Regions from separate parts of the Homo sapiens genome. Here region 2 is linked to region 1. A link means that fine-mapping ties the variant in region 1 to the expression of a gene that starts in the linked region. Tissue or cell type: whole blood. Region 1 holds a variant in brackets; the other region holds the start of a gene. All regions are shown on one strand. Distances are between the middles of the regions.

Region 1 (8,000 bases):
GAGTAAGCCCTTTGTCACCAATGCCCCTGGAAGGGCTGAGGGGAAGGTACCAGACACAAGAACAGCTCTGATGTCCCTCCGCCCAGCCGCCGCCACCACCGAACGGCACATTCAACCTCAAGGCCACAGCTGCTGTCTCCCCACTGCCCAGTCCCACCTCTGCAGTCTCTCACCCCAATCGCAGCCCTTGCCAGAGCAAGCATGCACCATCCCACTCGACCCATATGCACCAGGCTCAGTCCAGCCAGCCGCTCACTCAGCCTGCGAGGGTCTGGACTTCTGGCCCCCTACCTACAATAGCAGGCTCCCCTCCAGGCCCCCACGAACCTCTCCCCAGACACAACCACACCAAACATCAGCTCTCCTCTTCAAGATGCCCCTCCACCCCCTGGACCAGGAGGCCCTTTCTGTTTACAACCCCAGCAGAGCCCAGGGGCTCATCCCAAGACACCTGCCTGCTTGTGTGAGGCTCTATGGTTCCTGTCAGCCCCACCCCCATCCCACCCACCCCCACAAGCCCAAAATATTCTACTCACTTTGCTGCCATGGCAAGGGGGTACTGGAAGCCATACTGCTGCTGGGCGGAGGGGGTGGCGGAGGCTGCTGCTGCTGTTGTTGCCATGGGGGAAGAGGACCAGAGGGAGGGGGTGGGGGCTGCCCACTGGGAGGCGGCGGCGGCGGCGGCATCATGCCCATAGGTGGTGGCGGCATCATACCTGTGGACAGGTGGAGGCAAAGATGAGGCCTCAGGGAAAGGCGGGGACTTGGGCCAGAACCCCCACTCACCCAAGCCTAGGTGAAGACCCACAGCCAGCAGACAGCCATTACCTTTTCCTTGATGCAGGCGATAGACCCCAGAGCCCACAGGCGTACTTCCCAGGTACTGATCTTGATGGAAGGAAAGAGCAGGGACTTAGCAGGACATTGGAACTGGCCAGGGAAGCCACCCCTGTGATAACCTCAGTTGCTATCCTTACGCGAGTTCTGAAAACCATGCCTGTAAAAGGCAGGTCTGTGCTTACCCAACACAGAATCACTCCCTGAACCAGAATGGAGTCTTGCTCCTTCCAGAGCCACAACCCTGGCAAGCCAGGCAGACCCAGCACATTGCCCAGCCACTTGAGAGCTGCTTCTAGCCAACAGCGACCTGACGTAACCCCTTGCTTATCCCAAAGCCCCCAAGGTTTCTGGTCTGACACTTACTTACCCATTGGAGGAGGGCCATGGTGCCCAGGAGGGTGGGGGCCCTGGTTCATCGGTGGTGGTGGTGGCTGCATCCAAGGGGGTGGGGGTCCATTGGGGTTGTGCTGCATGGGATGTCCACCATGCCCACCTGTCAGGCTGGGTAATGGGTGTGGGAAGCTGTGGGGGCCACCTCCGGGCCCACCAGGACCACCTCCATGCATGCCGTGGTAGGGCCGACTCTCTGAAGGGCCAGAATTCATCCAGGGTGGGCGGCTCTGGGTGGTAGACATGAGAGACTACGTGAGAGCATTTCCTGCCAACGTCCCTGCCTGCGCCTCCTAGTGGCAACATTGTTCTTCGGGTTATGACACAGGACCAGAACACAAGAACAAGGTCTTCCCGAAGTGAGAAGTCCCCAAACTGGCCTGAGATCCCGGAAGAACAATGTTGCCATCCACATCCATTGTCTGCTCTACCCAAACCACGTGGCCATAGCTCCCAGTCTCTGCAGTAGAGAATGGGGAAGCCAGACCAAGAGAGCCAGCCCCCAGGCTCACCGGTGGAGGTGGGTTGTTGGCGGGAGCAGCAGGACGAGGTGCGCTGGCCAGGGGTGTGGTGGCAGGCCCAGAGGTGGAGCCCACAGATGCTGGGACAGGTGCTTCACCCAGTTCAGCCATGAGGGACAAATATTCTTTATCCATCCGTGCTTTATCCTGAGCTGACTGAGGATCACCAGGCCTGAAGTGGGGTGGGGGACACAAACAGAGAAAGGGGAAAAACTTGTTAAGAAGGAAGCTTTTATCCTGAGGAACCAACATATGGAAAGTTCTGAAGAATTCAATCACCAGATCATCACACATCTTTCTAACCCCTTACTGGGCATGGCTCTCAACAGTCTCATCAGATCTTCAGTTTCGTGCCCAGTTCTGCATCTGGGATCACCAGAGTAGAGGGGCCCCTGGGCGAAGAGCACAGGAGACCCTGAGCACCGATGAAGCACAGGTTCTCTCAAGTCAATTTCATCAAACTTCATTCCCAGTTTGAGGAAAGGAAAATCTATGCAAGACTGGCACAACTGCCAGAACGAACTTCCTAAACAAAACCTTACATATTCGCCAGCCAGTCAGAAAGTGTTGATATCGAGTGCTGACTTGCAACTGGTCAGAAATCTGTAGAGATTGCTTAGTCTTCTTGAACCAATTCTGAACAGCAAAAGCAGTGAATTTCCTATTGAGCCCCAGTAAAAACATACCCAAAATGGAAACTTCCAGTTTTCTTGGGCTCAAGACAAACAAACAGGGGTATCTGTACAGCCTATTTCTAATCATCCTGGGCTTTAAATCACACCATTACAGACCACACTAACAGAAAGGATGTTTCTCTTGGTAAGATTAACAGCAACCAATGAATGTGCCAGAAAAGTTGTCCTGCACATCGCAGGCTACCAGGAAACCGCAAGAGCCAGCCCCTCACCTTTGGAATTTACAGTCTGAAGCAATGTGGCCAGCCCCTCCACACTTGGTACACACTGTGGTGTTGGTAATGCTGCGGGTCTCTGAGCTCTGCCAGGGTCTTAAGATCCTATTAAAGGAAAAAGAGGTCAATGCAAGGGAACAATCTCTACTTCCATAGGTTCTTCAGGTCTCTACACTCTCCTTTAAACTGATCACATACCTGTTATCGTCTTCCCGAAGGGTCCCATTTAAGCGAGCCAACTCCCGAAGCTGCATCTTCCGTAGATCATTCTGGTCCTCTGGAGTCTCGATACCCTGCTTCAGGATGTTTCTTATCTAGTGAAAATGCAATGGACAGTTAAGTGCTTAGGGCCTCCACCTAGGTTTCTGCTAGGAGGCTTCCTTTCTGGGCTCACCGCTCACCTGTTCCACTGCCTTTTTGACGTTCTCCATTGTATTGGCAGTAACCAGGGCATGAAGTGGCTCATCTTCTCCTGGCAACATCTGGCCATCTTTGCGCCCAACCTTCCCTTCTTTCACAGACCCTTTCCCCCGGATCATAATCTTGGCATTGCACTCCTTCTCTATGTTCTTCAGGGTGTTCCCTCTAGAGAGGCAGAAATGACTAAGTTTATACCTGACAAATTCACACTCAAGAGGGAAGAGAGGCTGGACCAATTTGGCATTGGTGGGAAACCACAAGCGCAGAGAATTGGATTTTCCCACCAAGAGCTCCATGAACTCTATATTATGGTCAGCCACAGTAAACCTGAGGATTTGACTTCTCCGCACTAGTGGGGAAGTTAAGACACCTTCTCACAGAAAGGCATTAATTCAGCCAAAATGAAATGTCCTACCAAAAAGGGGAAAAGTAAGCCAACAGTCCCCAATTAGGCACAAAACGGACACATCTCACAGGCTCTAAAGGAATTCTATATCCTATAGACCAGCAGTTACTCACCTGGGCCCGATGAGCAGCCCCACAAAGTTGATTTCTGGGTACTCATCTTGTGGAATCATGACTTTATCACTCACACGTGTTGCTGGAGGTCTAAGAAAGAAAAGCCTGTGTCACCGCACATTTCTGGAGAATGACACAGCCAGCGGCTTTTCTAAAACCAAATATTGGTACCAAGTGCTAATTATGGGTGACTTGAGGCAAGAGGTGAGTAGTACCAATACTGTCCCATCCCAGCAGGTCACCCATGATCTGCATGTGTCTTCATCCCAGATGACCGAGCCCCTCCGCTTACTTGTAATCTGCAGGTGGCTTGAAATCCGGATTGAGTGCAACCATCTCTGTGATGAGGTTGTGCCGCTCCTCTTCCAGCTTTTTGCGGGTGCGGAACTCTCGGGTGTTAAGCCGCTTCCCCTCGCTATTGTAGATGGGCTCAGGGGAAGGGGACCTGTGGGAAACAGACTCCCGTTTACTATTCTGCACCGACTTCTCTCATTCCCACACGGACTATAACAAGTCTTTCCCAGCCCCTCTGCCTCTCAGACCCTAATACAACACTCTTCGGAGGAACCGACCATAACGTGTGCTACTCAAGATCGTGTGGAATGGGGAGATGGAAGCTGGCTTAACGTTAGGGGTCTGGGGTGTGTGTGAGAAAGGAAAAAAATAAAAGATTTTGCATCTAGAAGTGATGAGAGGAAAAAATGTCTATTCTTTGGGGAAAATCTTTGGACTGTAAGTGGCAAGGACAGTATCATCCCCTGGAGTCTTCTTGCCAAATACGGATTTTCTTCCATTTGAAAAAAAATACATATCCCAACTTTATGAACCACAGAAACCCCAAGTTTAGGCAAAAGGTTAACTCTTGGAGAGCTCATGCCCTATGAGGAAAAGCTTCTGTACCCCTAACACA[T/C]AGTATGTATGAGCTCTTTAACCCAATGCAACTGGGACTGAAGGCTACTGCAGCTACTTGGCCCCCACAATGGAGAGAGATGGTTCGCTTCGTCTTTGCTTTTCCTTCAATGGCCTGGCTGGCTGTGTCCAAGGCCCAGGAGACAACCTGTTTTCTGGCTGTTCGAGGTTGGGGAGTCTGGGTAGAGAAAAACGTTAAAGTGCTAAAGCAGCTTCTGCGAGAGGCTGCAAATGCAGATTTGGTCATACTTGTCTAGGGTCTGAACCTGCAAACAGCAAGGGGAAAACCTATGATTCTCCACCAGAGTTTACAAGTCCAGAAAGCAGATTTTCTCTCTCTCATTTTTTTAAGGAGTAAAATGCTGTTGCTACAAGTAAAAAAATGTAATGATAAAATGGTCAGTTTACCACAGCTGGATTTTGCGGTAATAAAAAAGAGAGGTTACACTCCTAGAATTTTGAGTTAAGATTACAAAAAGGACCATAGCTTGATATTCTGAATGAAAATTTAGTAGCAGCTGCAAGAAGGGAAGAGACCATGTGGATCAGGTTATTAAAAAAACATACTGAAAGTAATCAAGACTCCTATACCCTTGGTTTAGTTGAGAGAACCTTGCCTAGTTGGAGAGCAAGGACTGAACTCGGCTGCTCCCACTGTCTTCAGCCTAAAGGGAACCATGTCACACCACGTTACACACACGATGGAATAAAAGGTCAGGTTTGTTCATGGCTAATGACGGCTAAATGACACCTCCGTTTCTAGCATTTGTATAAACTGTTAGCACAATCCATTAAGAGTGAACAAAAGCAAACATACCCCAGCTCATTAGACTACCATCTTATACATTTAAGTCTACAAGAAAAGTTTTAAACATGTTTTTACTGTGCAAGTTAAGCAGCATCAAAATAACAATAAAGTGGCTTAAGTGATATAACACCTTTTTAAGAAATTATCTTAATTAAGAAAACCCATGCATTTCCCTCCAACCTGGGCTCAAAAGCAAAACCAATCAGGCATTAGGGCCTCTTTCAAAACTGAATAGAAGGGAGGAAAAACCCTGCTCTGGTTTTATTTCTAACATGCTTGACATTTCTAATTCCCACCCCACAGCTGTCTAGAATTAAGCATTCTTAGCTAGTTACAAAAACAAGTCTTACCAGCACCCAATTGGCCATGTGAAGGCCTCACAACAGTTTAACCTCCTCCCAAATTGCAGAAGTGAAAGGCAAAAGCTAGTATTCTAGAGGTTAGACTGGCCCGACTTCTTCACCTCCAACAGGCATCGGCTAGATCAACTAAATTCTAATCCCAGTTATCCAGGAAGCAAAGAAGGTTTGTTAAAAATTCAACCTTTGGAGGAATTGACTGGTGACCTGTAGACATATTATTAAAGGGAAAAAGGCCAAAAAGGCACTAAACAGTTGTGGTCTATGACCTACAATGTAAATTTAAAAAAAAAAAAAATCTTCAAAAAGAAACGAAACACAACACAACCCTACAACCAAAATCTATCTATAGGTAAAATATAGCAAATGTAGTAAGTCAAATTAAAGAGTCAATATGGAGAAACAAGGAAGTTAATGTTTCCTGGCAAAGGGCGGAAGAAAGATGCATGAGTGAGTGACTTCTAAAGCCATTACATCATCTTCCTGATTTAATAAGCTATTAACTGGGTAACAAAAACCAAAAACACTACTTTTTAAAGCAAAGTCTTTTCAACTATTCTGTATGTACTAAGAGAAAATTCAGTGAGAGGGAGAGACTTACTGCCCTTCTAATTAAATGACCAATTTTAGCTGTTCAATCAGCTAATAAAATTCCAGTTTAAAAAAGTTCATCTCCCCCACACAATTTATTTTTCTGAGGTGAGAGAAACTGCAAACTGAAATGACATGACCACAGCTGTTTGAGGCCCACGCTCCCTTTAAGGAAAAAAAAAAAGTAATTTAGGGTTGGTTGCATGCCTTCCCAAAATAGGTGAGAATATTCTGGCCCCTCCCAACACCCCCAAGGCAATGGCCAAGGCTGAAAGTTAACTGGCAGTGAAAGAAGTTGGTTAGAAATCTCATCTGATTTTGAAACCATCTCAAAACCATGAGCAGGAAGACTGCAGCAATGAGCTGACCAGAGCTCCTGGCTTGCTCAAGTTCAGTGATGCTCAAAAATATTTTTAGTCCCTGCACTGTGTACCTGTGAGAAAAACTCTATGCCCTGGGCTTTTGGCCAAAGCAGGTACTGAAAAGGCAGGTTAACGGGCCACCTCACTGTCCCCTAAGGGTGGGTAAATCAGGTTAAGATCTACATGCTTACCAATTGGAAACCAGTTGTCCATTTTCCTGTAACTTTTTATTCTCCCAACATTTTTAAGTTTTATTCCAATTTTCTAACTGTTGACTGACCATACATATTTCTAATTAAACCTTAATCCCCAAAGTGGTCAGGGTACAGTCGTCATACTATGATTTTATTGAACTGACACAATATGTTGCCACCAGTAAAACGTATTGAGAAAAAGGTAAAAGCGTTACTGTCAGCTGGTTAAAACTGTTTCCCAACCTGTCCTCAGGGTTAGGGGGGATGCCCAGGTCTCCTGTGCGCAGTTTACGAGTCAGGTCTTCTATCTGCAGTTGCACTGGAAGAAACCAGGTTAGGAAAGAAAAAAAAGGATGGAAAAAAGACAATGTTACCAATAAACATCTCAAATCTCAACAACAAGCATGAAGAACTCGGAGACTTTGAAAGGGACGACTGATCAGTGAACACATTGAAGCAAAAACCCCCAACCACCTATCGGCAGGAGTCCTTTTACATCTATAGGTTTTTTTCACTTCAAAATGGTTATCACTTAAGGAAGCAAACAGTTTGTTGGAAGAGGGGTTAGCAATAAAGACTGTTCACTAAGGCTAACATCCAAGCAATTATTAGGAGGTGTTTCACCTCTTCCTCCCCACCAAGGCTTGCTTACCATTGGTACCCAGAACCATAAACCATGTTACGTCACCAATACCCGACTCCCATCAAATTACTTGAGGGCAAGAATTGAGTTTTTTCTTCATTAAATGTTAAACATAGCCCAAAATGAGACCCAATTAACATGGGACAAGGAAAAATACCAATTGAGCAAAGATCATTTTCATTAATACATTTAAAATTCCTTAAATAAGACATTTAATAACAAAATTCAACACCTTATAGAAATTTGTACATACTCTTTCTGTACAACCAGACCTGTACTAGTAAGGGTCTCCCAATACCTGCAGCTCTTATTCAATTATATGAAATATTTATTCAAATATTAAATGACAAACCACATATCTTAATAAACCAGTAACCATAAAGTGCTAAGAATTTGTTTTCAGGCTCACTGTTCATATGGGGAGCAGGCGTGTAGAAGAATGGAATGTGTGTTCAAGGACAATGTACTTGGCCCTCGGGCCTTGACCAATGAGGCTGTGCATGAAAAAGAGAGATGAGGGTTTCACAAAAGTTG
Region 2 (8,000 bases), 32 kb after region 1:
CCGCCCAGCCTAATTTTTGTATTTTAAGTAGAGGTGGAGTTTCACCATGTTGGCAAAGCTGGTCTTGAACTCCTGACCTCAGGTGATCCACCCACCTCAGCCTCCTAAAGTGCTGGGATTACAGGCATGAGCCACCACGCCCGGTCAGAGGTCAGCCTTTCTGCCGCCCCTGCCACCCCCTGCAGCTTCCCCATACCTCACTTACCCACTCAACTCTTCCTTTCCCAGTAGTGTCCACTCTTCCTCCCACTGGGGGAAACCAAGGTAGAGACCGGGGAAGAAGCAGAGACAGATGCAACGTGAGAGGGCGCTCAAGAGATTCAGGAAAGGAAAGACAGACAGACAGACAGACGGGAAAGGTGAGATGGAAACACACAGAAGATGAGAGAGACAGACAGTGGGAGGCAGAGCTGAAGACTGTGAAAGAAAGGGCAACAGACAGCGAGGGAGGAAGAGACAGGCTGGGGGGTGAGGAGAGACCAGTGACAGAGCCGATGAGGGCAGAGACAGAAAGTCAGACCACTGGGGACACACAGGTGGGAAAACGAGGCTGAGCAGGGTAGGGTGAGGGCTCAGGCACATGACGGCCTCCTTTTGGGAAAGGCATGGTCTCTGTGCTACCTTCCAGACACCCACCTAAAAGAACTTGGCCCAGGAAGGAGCCCCTAACCCTCCAGGTCCCTGGGTAGGACAGGCTTGCTTGGACAGTCTAAGGCCCAAGGCCCGAGGCCACCCAGCTTCAAATCTCCCTTGATTTGAGCTGCTCGGCCTCCATCCGACCTCCCTGCCCCACCTCTGGGCACCACCTTCCCCTCAAGGCCTGCCCACTCACCGGCTCATTCAGTGGGTCAGTTTCCTTCCTGCGTGGGGCGCCAAATTTCACCTGGTGAACTGGGGGGCCCAGAGTACAAGAGTGAAGGAGCTGGAGTCTCAGGATGGACCTCTACTCACACCAAATCCATGTGCACACAGGCCCCCCAAAATCTGCACACACACAGCCCCTGCTGCAGACTCACACTGGATCTCCGAGGGGGTCCTCTCGGCTGGGCCGTGCTGCCCCCGGGAGTGAATGGTGTCTGGAAACATGTCATAGGTCTAAGGAAAAACAGAAACAGTGTGGACACACCTGGCACGCGCCTCATGCCGGGGCTGCTCTAGGAGCTTCACACGCACCAGTGCGTTTTGCTTTCATGACAGCCCTCTGGGACTACTGTAAAATAAAATGGAACCCCACTTCACAGATGAGAGAACCCACACAGAGCAGTGCCAAAGATCACACAGAAAGCAAGAAAATGGCACAGTCGTGGTCATGGTCAGCTTGGACTCAAGGGCAGGGACCTATCAAGGGGGTGGTACAGGAAACAAAAGTCAGCATGACAGAGACTCCTAATGGGAGGGCTCAGCTGAGGCCAGCTCCCTGAGCTGGAATGGTGCCAGTTAAAGGACCTCCACCAACATCACCCTCGGGCTCTTTCTAAGCAGACCAGCCCAAGACTCACTTTCCAGCCCCCCTCACCTACCTCCAGCTCACAGTCCTCAGGGGAGGGGGTCCCCAGATGAGGGTCACTGGCTTTGTCCAGCAGCTGTGTGAGGAGGGCCCGAGGGAGCTGCTGAGTCGTGAACGGGTGCTGGAAAGTGGGGGAGGGGGGTGATCAGGTTGGCCCCTGATCCAGGGCCCTGCTTTTGAGTACTGGGCCTCTCTCCCGGCCCCCTGCCTCCCACCTGCAGGAGCTTCTCTGCTGTCGGCCTCTTCTTAGGATTCTTGGTCAGGGCCAGTTTGAGAAAGTGGTGGAAATTCTGGGTCCTAGAAGGCACAAGAGCCCCCCAGCGCCAGATCCAGGTTAGCCCTCGTGCAGGGTGTCCTGCCAGCTGCCCTACCACCCCTCCAGAGGCGTCTGCTGGGCCCACCCAGGAAGGAGCCAGCCGAGGCCAAGGGCCACTGGCCGAGCAACGCTGCCTTGCGACACAGCGGCTCCTCCACCAACCCTCTGCCCTTCTTTCCTGACCACGCTGGGTCTTCAACCCACAGAAGGACCAGGCCCCTGACTCAGATGGTCTGTAGTAGCCCAGAAAGGACAGGGCTCTTGGGGTTGCCCCCCGGGAGTTGGCAGAGGCTGTTTGTCCACTATGGGGCTGACAGAAAAGGGGGTCCCGGCAGCAGGGTGTGGCCCTTACCAGCGAGTCTTATCTCTCAGTTTGGGCGGCTGGAAGCTGCTCTTCGACATGAGCATCAGGGCCCTGTGGAGGGCGCGAGGTCAGGGGCCACAGGCCGCAGATCAAGGGTCAGGTGAGGGGCAAGTGTTGGGCTGACCTCATGGGGTGCAGGTGGAACAGAGGGGGCTGCAGCTCGCCCAGCTCAATGGCAGTGATGCCCAGGGCCCAGACGTCACATAGCTCATTGTAGCCACCTTTGCGCTCCACAGCAGCCACCTCGGGAGCCATCCTAGAGGTGGGGTCACAGATGGGATGGCCGGGTGCCCTGCTCTGTGGCCCCTACCCCTCCGCCCCAGGCGCAGCCTCACCAGTAGGGAGTCCCAATGAAAGACCTCCTCTTGGCCACAGACGCTGTCAGCTCGCCTGACACCCCAAAGTCAGCTGTGGGGAGAAACAGCCACTCTCACCAGCCCTCTGGCTGCCACTCACCCTCCCACGCCCAGGGCTCTGGCTCGGCTGCACCTGGCAGGGCTCAGACGGGCAGGTGGCCCCGCTTGGTCACAGCTGCCGCAGGCCCTAGGCAAGGCCAGGTCCCTCTCCTGAGAGGGGTCAACCACCCTCTATCCCTGACGGAGTGCCTGGTCCCATGTCAACTCCGTGCAGACCCAACCTCCTCTATTTTCCAGCAGGGAGGGAGTACCGTTCCATCTTCTAAGCAGGGAAACTGAGACTCAAGTGGCAAAGTGACTTGCCCAGTGACACCCAACCCTTGAGTCCAGGGTAGCCGGGGAGGGTCCACAGAGCCCTCACCCTGATGGTGTCCCCAGGGTACTGACCCAGTTTGACATCTCCCTGGAGAGTGAGGAGAAGGTTGGCTCCCTGTGGGAATGGAGGAGAGACAATCCCATCTGGTGCCCCCGAGGGCCTCCTCCTCCCTCCCCAGGAGTGCCCCCAGCTAGGTGCCTACCTTGATGTCTCTGTGGATCTTCCCCTGAGAATGCAGGTGGTGGAGCCCCTGGCGACAAAGAGGAGTCCCTGAGAGCAGCCACCCAGCACTGTCCCACCTCCCCAAACCCCCTCTCAGGACTGGGGCCCCCCACTCAGGCTGCTTCTTCCTCCCCTCTCCCCAAACAGGAAGTGACTGAGCCAAGAGGGAAATGGACTGCTTCCGGCAACAGGGCTGGGGCCCCTTTTCCCCAGGACCTACAGCCCCTCGGGCCAGCCCCACCCGAGGCACTCCACCCGCCTCCCTGCTGGTCATCTGGGCTCCTGGCCCACAGCTTCTGGAGACCAGAGGTGTGGGCACCTCACAGGCCCAGCTACCTTCAGTGCCTCTCGGCAGACGTAGGCAATCTGCCGCTCCTCCAGGGGCCCAGTGGCTGAAAGGAAAAGGGAGAGGCTGGCTTGGGGGCCCGGGGGTCATGCCCACCCTCCCAGGCTACCGTGTGTGGGAAAAGCAGCAGGCACTGTTAAATGAAAGCGGTGTTGGCCACGTCCCCTCCCAGTTTAGTCTAGGATACTGAACCCAGAGATGGACAGTATTTCTCTCAAGGTCACACAGCCAGGCAGGAGTGGAGAGGAGCCCAAGTCCAGGGCCCAGAGTCCCCTCTGGTACCCCAGTGGGGTAGGGGTGGGGGAAGGCTGGGGCCTGCTGGGGCCTGGAGCCCTGGCCTCACCATGGTAAATCTCCTGCAGGGAGCCCCCTCCGCAGAACTCCATGCAGATCCACAAGCGGTCATTCCTAGGGACAAAGAGCTGGGGTGGGCACAAAGCAGGTCACATGGGGGCTGCCTGGGGCCAGGAGGATAAGGCAGCCTCACCTGAGGTAGCTGCCAATGTAGGCCACCACATTGGGGTGGCGGCACTCACGCAGGATGGTGATTTCCTGCTGGAGGGAGCTGATGTCGTCCCCTGGGAAGCACAAAGCATCATGGGGAAGGCGCGCTGGGGTTGCCCTGACTCAGTGCCCCCATCTGCAAAATGGGCACAGAGTGCCTCCCTCCGGGCCAGGCAGGTGCAGGTGACAGCACCTCCCGGGGCACGCCTCTCAGGGGTCTCGGAAACGTCAACCCTCCGCCCGCACCCCGCGCCCGCGGGCGCTCTGCCCTTCCTCTGGCGCAGAGGCCCGACCCGGGCCCTCACCTGGGTCTAGCTTGACTATCTTCACGGCGGCCAGTTCGGACGTGACCGTGTCGCGGGCCTGCAGGGGCGGAGGGTGAAGCGGGATGGGGGGCGGGGCCGGGGGCTAGATCCTGCCGCGGGGTGCGGGGCTGGCACCCTCCTCCCGGCTCTCCCGCCCGTCCCGTCGCACCTTGTAGACGTCGCCATAGGTCCCGGCCCCCACGCGCTGCAGCAGCTCGAAGCGGTCCCGCGGGTCCTGCAGCGACACATCCCGCAGCAGCGCCATGGCCCGGCGCCGGGCGGGCCGGCAGGCGGGCGGGCGCGAGCTGCGGAGCCGGCGCGGGGCGGCGCGGGGCGGGGCGGGCGCCCGTGGCTCTGAGGCCGCGGGGGCGGGGCTGAGGCCCGGGGGCGGGGCCGCGCCGGGGATGCCCCACCGCCAGTCCGGGAGGAGGCGCCCGCGGGACGGGCCCTCGGCGGCGCGGGGAAGCCCCAAGGCCGGGGCGGAGCCTACGTCCTTCCGCCGCCACTGTCGCTCGCGCTCCACAGGTAGGGAGCGCAAAGTCCCGGGAGCCAGAAGACAGAGGGAAGAGGGGGCGCTCCACTCCCCGCCCCATCCCCAATTTCCCAGATAAACATGGACTTGCGCTTTATATTTTTTTTAACAAAATGTATTCATCTTTCTTGGAACTGAAAAATAAATCTATGTACAAAACAGGAAGAGATCAGGCTCTTGTCACCCACTCCTAACCCTCTGCAGATTTCCTCCGGGATGCTCCGAGATGGGCTGGACCTCTGGGAGGTTCCCAGAGGGTCGGAAGGGAGGTCCTGCTCTGATCCGGGGCCAGTTTCGTCAGGAAGAGGGCGGGGCTCAGGATGCTCATAGGCTGGGGGCGGAGTTTTGTGTCCCAGACTCGGGATACGAAGGAGAGGAAACTAGGATTTCCAAATTCTGGAGCAGGACTGAAGTTATTTGGGGCAGGGAGCTTGGATTCGCAAGATATGGAATTCTGAAGTGCGGAAATATACTCCTAGGGGCTGAGTGGTCCTAGGCTCCCGGGCTGGAGGTGGGACCTGTGCTCCTTGGGTTAAGGGTGAAACCTCAGCTCCTACAAGCTGGGAGGAGCCCTGAGTAACGTTGGTCTGGCTCTAGGTGAGCGGTTCCGAGGAGGAGCTTGGGTTTCTAGGGGCTGGGCCTTTAAAGACTGGTAATTAGGACCCAGCGTGAGGTTTCCATTGGCCGGCTGGGATTCTGGGAGAAGAGACCTATATTCTAACGACTGGGGCAGAGCCCTGGGTTCTGAGCTGGAGAAAATCGTGGGTTTGATACAGACTGTACTCGGGACCGGGAACCTAGGGTTTGGGTAGAGGTGAGGCCTGTCCCCTTTGGGCTGGGGGCAGAACATGGGCTCAGAGTTGGGGGACTAAGGGCGGAGCCTGGGTCCCCACAAGCGGTCCGAAGTCCCCAGTAGTTCAGAGGCCTTTGCGCTGCCGCTTGAGGAAAGACAGAGTGTAGTCACTAGGGGTGGACACTTTCTGCTTCTTCATCTGCACTTGCGACTGTGCCGTGAGTTGCAGCTTGATGGCGCTCGAGTTGATCTTGGTGGCCACCAGCAGCTCCTTCATGCCCTTCATCTTCTCACTCTGGAAAGTGAGCACTGGACCCTCCGGCGGTGGTGATGCTGTGGGTGCTGGCACCTGAGCCGTGCTGCCACCTTCAGGGCCTCGGGCTGTGCCAGCGACAGTCCCAGGAGGCTTCCGGGGGGGTCCTGACACTGCACCCTGGCCGGTGCCCAGGCCCTTGTCCAGTGCTGGCTTCTTGGGCGGCGGGGGCTCCTCTGGCTTGGACTCCCGCCGTGGGCCCCGCCGCCGGCCTTCCCGGGCTTCCTCGCCCCACGGCTCCTCGGCCTCGGCCGCCTCGGCCTCTCGGCTCACTATGCGCACCTTCTGCCGCACCTGGGCCAGTGGGGAGAGCAAGGTGAGAGCAAGGTTGCCGGCCAGTGGCTGGAACTCCAGGACCCTGCTCTGGCCATCCCATCCCACCCAGGGGGTCTCAGTCCCATCGGCACCCAAGGGGATGGGCAGATGCTGCCCCTGGGCCAGAAAAGTCTGACAAGCCCGTGGCTGCTGTCACCACCTGTAGTGCCCAGACCTCTGTGCAGCTGTCCCTCACCTGTCCCTCAAAACGGCCTAGGGACTGCACAAGAAAGGTGGCCCAGCCCACATGCAGCACAGGCGTGGGACTGCCCTCCTCCCATTTGCAGATGCCGTCGTAGAATCGCAGCAGGTGGGCGAAGCACTCAGGGTCCTGGAGGGCGGAACCTTGGCTCTGGGTGCCCTGGACGAGGGGGAAGGGAGGGCACAGATCAGTCTCTTACTCACCCCTTAGCAGAGGGCACAGGCCAGGCCCCCCACCTAGGCAAAGACCCCTGGCTCCAGAAAAGGTAAGCATAGGTTGGGAACATTCTTAGAACCTCTTTCCTTTTATAAAGCCAATCCATAGCCAGGACGTACCATCCCTACCTCCACCCCTCAGCTGAGGGAGGGAGTCTGGCCATGAAACTGAAGGCACAGGGTAGAAACCTCTAAAATACCTTCAGTCCCGTCCAACGTGGGCCCAGGACCTCAGTTATAGCAAAAGGGAACATAGCTGTCTGCTCAGGGCCACCTTCCTCCTGCCATCCCTAATCCCGTACATGCAGCCCCCATGGCCTGTGGAAGGGAGCCCTGTCCAGGTGGGAGGCTGGACACAGGCTGGAGCTCCAGCCTTTCACCTGGCTTTGCTCCCCCGGCCGCTCCTCGCCCGCCTCCAGCAAGCTGGCTGCCTCCTTCAGCAGGTTGGGGATGACATCATTGGCTACTTCAAAGAACTCCTTGTAGATCTCCTCGTCTTCCCGGCAGTAGTTGTAGCTGTGAGAGCAGTGGGGTCTCTGTAGGGTCTGAAGGGGTCTCACCATCGGGGGTAGCCCCAGGGACCTGGCGGGGGATGGAGCCCCCAGGGGCTGGGGGAGTAGGTGGGGTCCTCACTGCAAAATGATGCTGTCTGGGTCAGCCCAGAGGAAGAAAGCAAGAATGAGGAGGGGGGCATGGGGCCGAGGGTGGAAGTCCCACTGCTGGATGATGGTGGTTAAACATTGGAGATTTGAGACTGTTCTGAGAAAAAAAAAATTAGGAGGAGAGGGGAGGGAGGGAAAGATGTGACACCTTAATCAGGGTCCCTACCTCCTGGGTAATGGTGGCCTTGCTGCCTAGGGACTGGATGGAAAGGGGATGGGGCGTGGGAGCCAGGCCTCAGTCCTGGACGAGGGTGGTTGGAAACTGATGGAGGGGAAGAAAGGACAGGCTGCAGGCCCTAGTAGGGGGATCCTCACTCCTGGATGACAGTGGCCGTGTCCGCCCAGGCCTGCAGGGCTTCCCGCACATTGCGGTTGCGACAGTGGTAGCCAGCCAGGTACATGTAGGGGTAGATGTGTTCATCCCGATAGTAGGTCTTGGCTGAGGCAATGCCCTGGATGGAGGTGAGGCAGAGGATCCTCAGGGAGGCAGCCCCAGCTGCCCTGCTGGCACAAATGCCCCACCAGGGCACACCCAGAAGGGGCCACAGGAAGATCCCAGGGAGTCCTCTCCATCTCCACTCCCACCTCCACTCGCTGCCAGCCCTTCTACCTGGTCTCCTCCCTGGGTCTACAGGACTGCTGGCTGAGGCCTGGGGCAGACTGCAGGGGTGG

What was found. PIP is the estimated chance that this variant, and not a neighbour inherited with it, causes the effect.
Region 2: MAP4K2 starts here. The variant in region 1 is fine-mapped to the expression of MAP4K2 in whole blood (INTERVAL, PIP above 0.99).

Annotation. Positions count from the first base shown.
Region 1 is chr11:64,766,364-64,774,363 of GRCh38, forward strand. It overlaps SF1 (splicing factor 1), which reads right to left. Exons shown (of 13, transcript NM_004630.4): 3 at 7,067-7,142; 4 at 3,893-4,045; 5 at 3,601-3,690; 6 at 3,063-3,246; 7 at 2,860-2,975; 8 at 2,659-2,766; 9 at 1,743-1,923; 10 at 1,208-1,481; 11 at 829-888; 12 at 537-716. Among named protein-coding and RNA genes, the nearest start is that of SF1, 8.2 kb to the right of the region's middle. RefSeq lists enhancers at 1-246, 247-1,120, 6,373-6,462. The variant T/C (reference allele first, on the strand shown) is at 4,511.
Region 2 is chr11:64,798,589-64,806,588 of GRCh38, forward strand. It overlaps MAP4K2 (mitogen-activated protein kinase kinase kinase kinase 2), which reads right to left and starts at 4,626. Exons shown (of 32, transcript NM_004579.5): 1 at 4,466-4,626; 2 at 4,297-4,354; 3 at 3,975-4,065; 4 at 3,831-3,895; 5 at 3,478-3,533; 6 at 3,122-3,169; 7 at 2,991-3,033; 8 at 2,523-2,595; 9 at 2,312-2,443; 10 at 2,176-2,238; 11 at 1,723-1,804; 12 at 1,521-1,628; 13 at 1,017-1,095; 14 at 833-891; 1 more. The coding sequence starts at 4,561. MEN1 (menin 1) reads right to left here. Exons shown (of 10, transcript NM_001370259.2): 7 at 7,644-7,780; 8 at 7,047-7,182; 9 at 6,446-6,610; 10 at 4,928-6,228. The coding sequence ends at 5,746. RefSeq lists silencers at 1,189-1,483, 4,256-4,435, 4,586-4,765 and enhancers at 2,556-2,605, 2,696-2,745.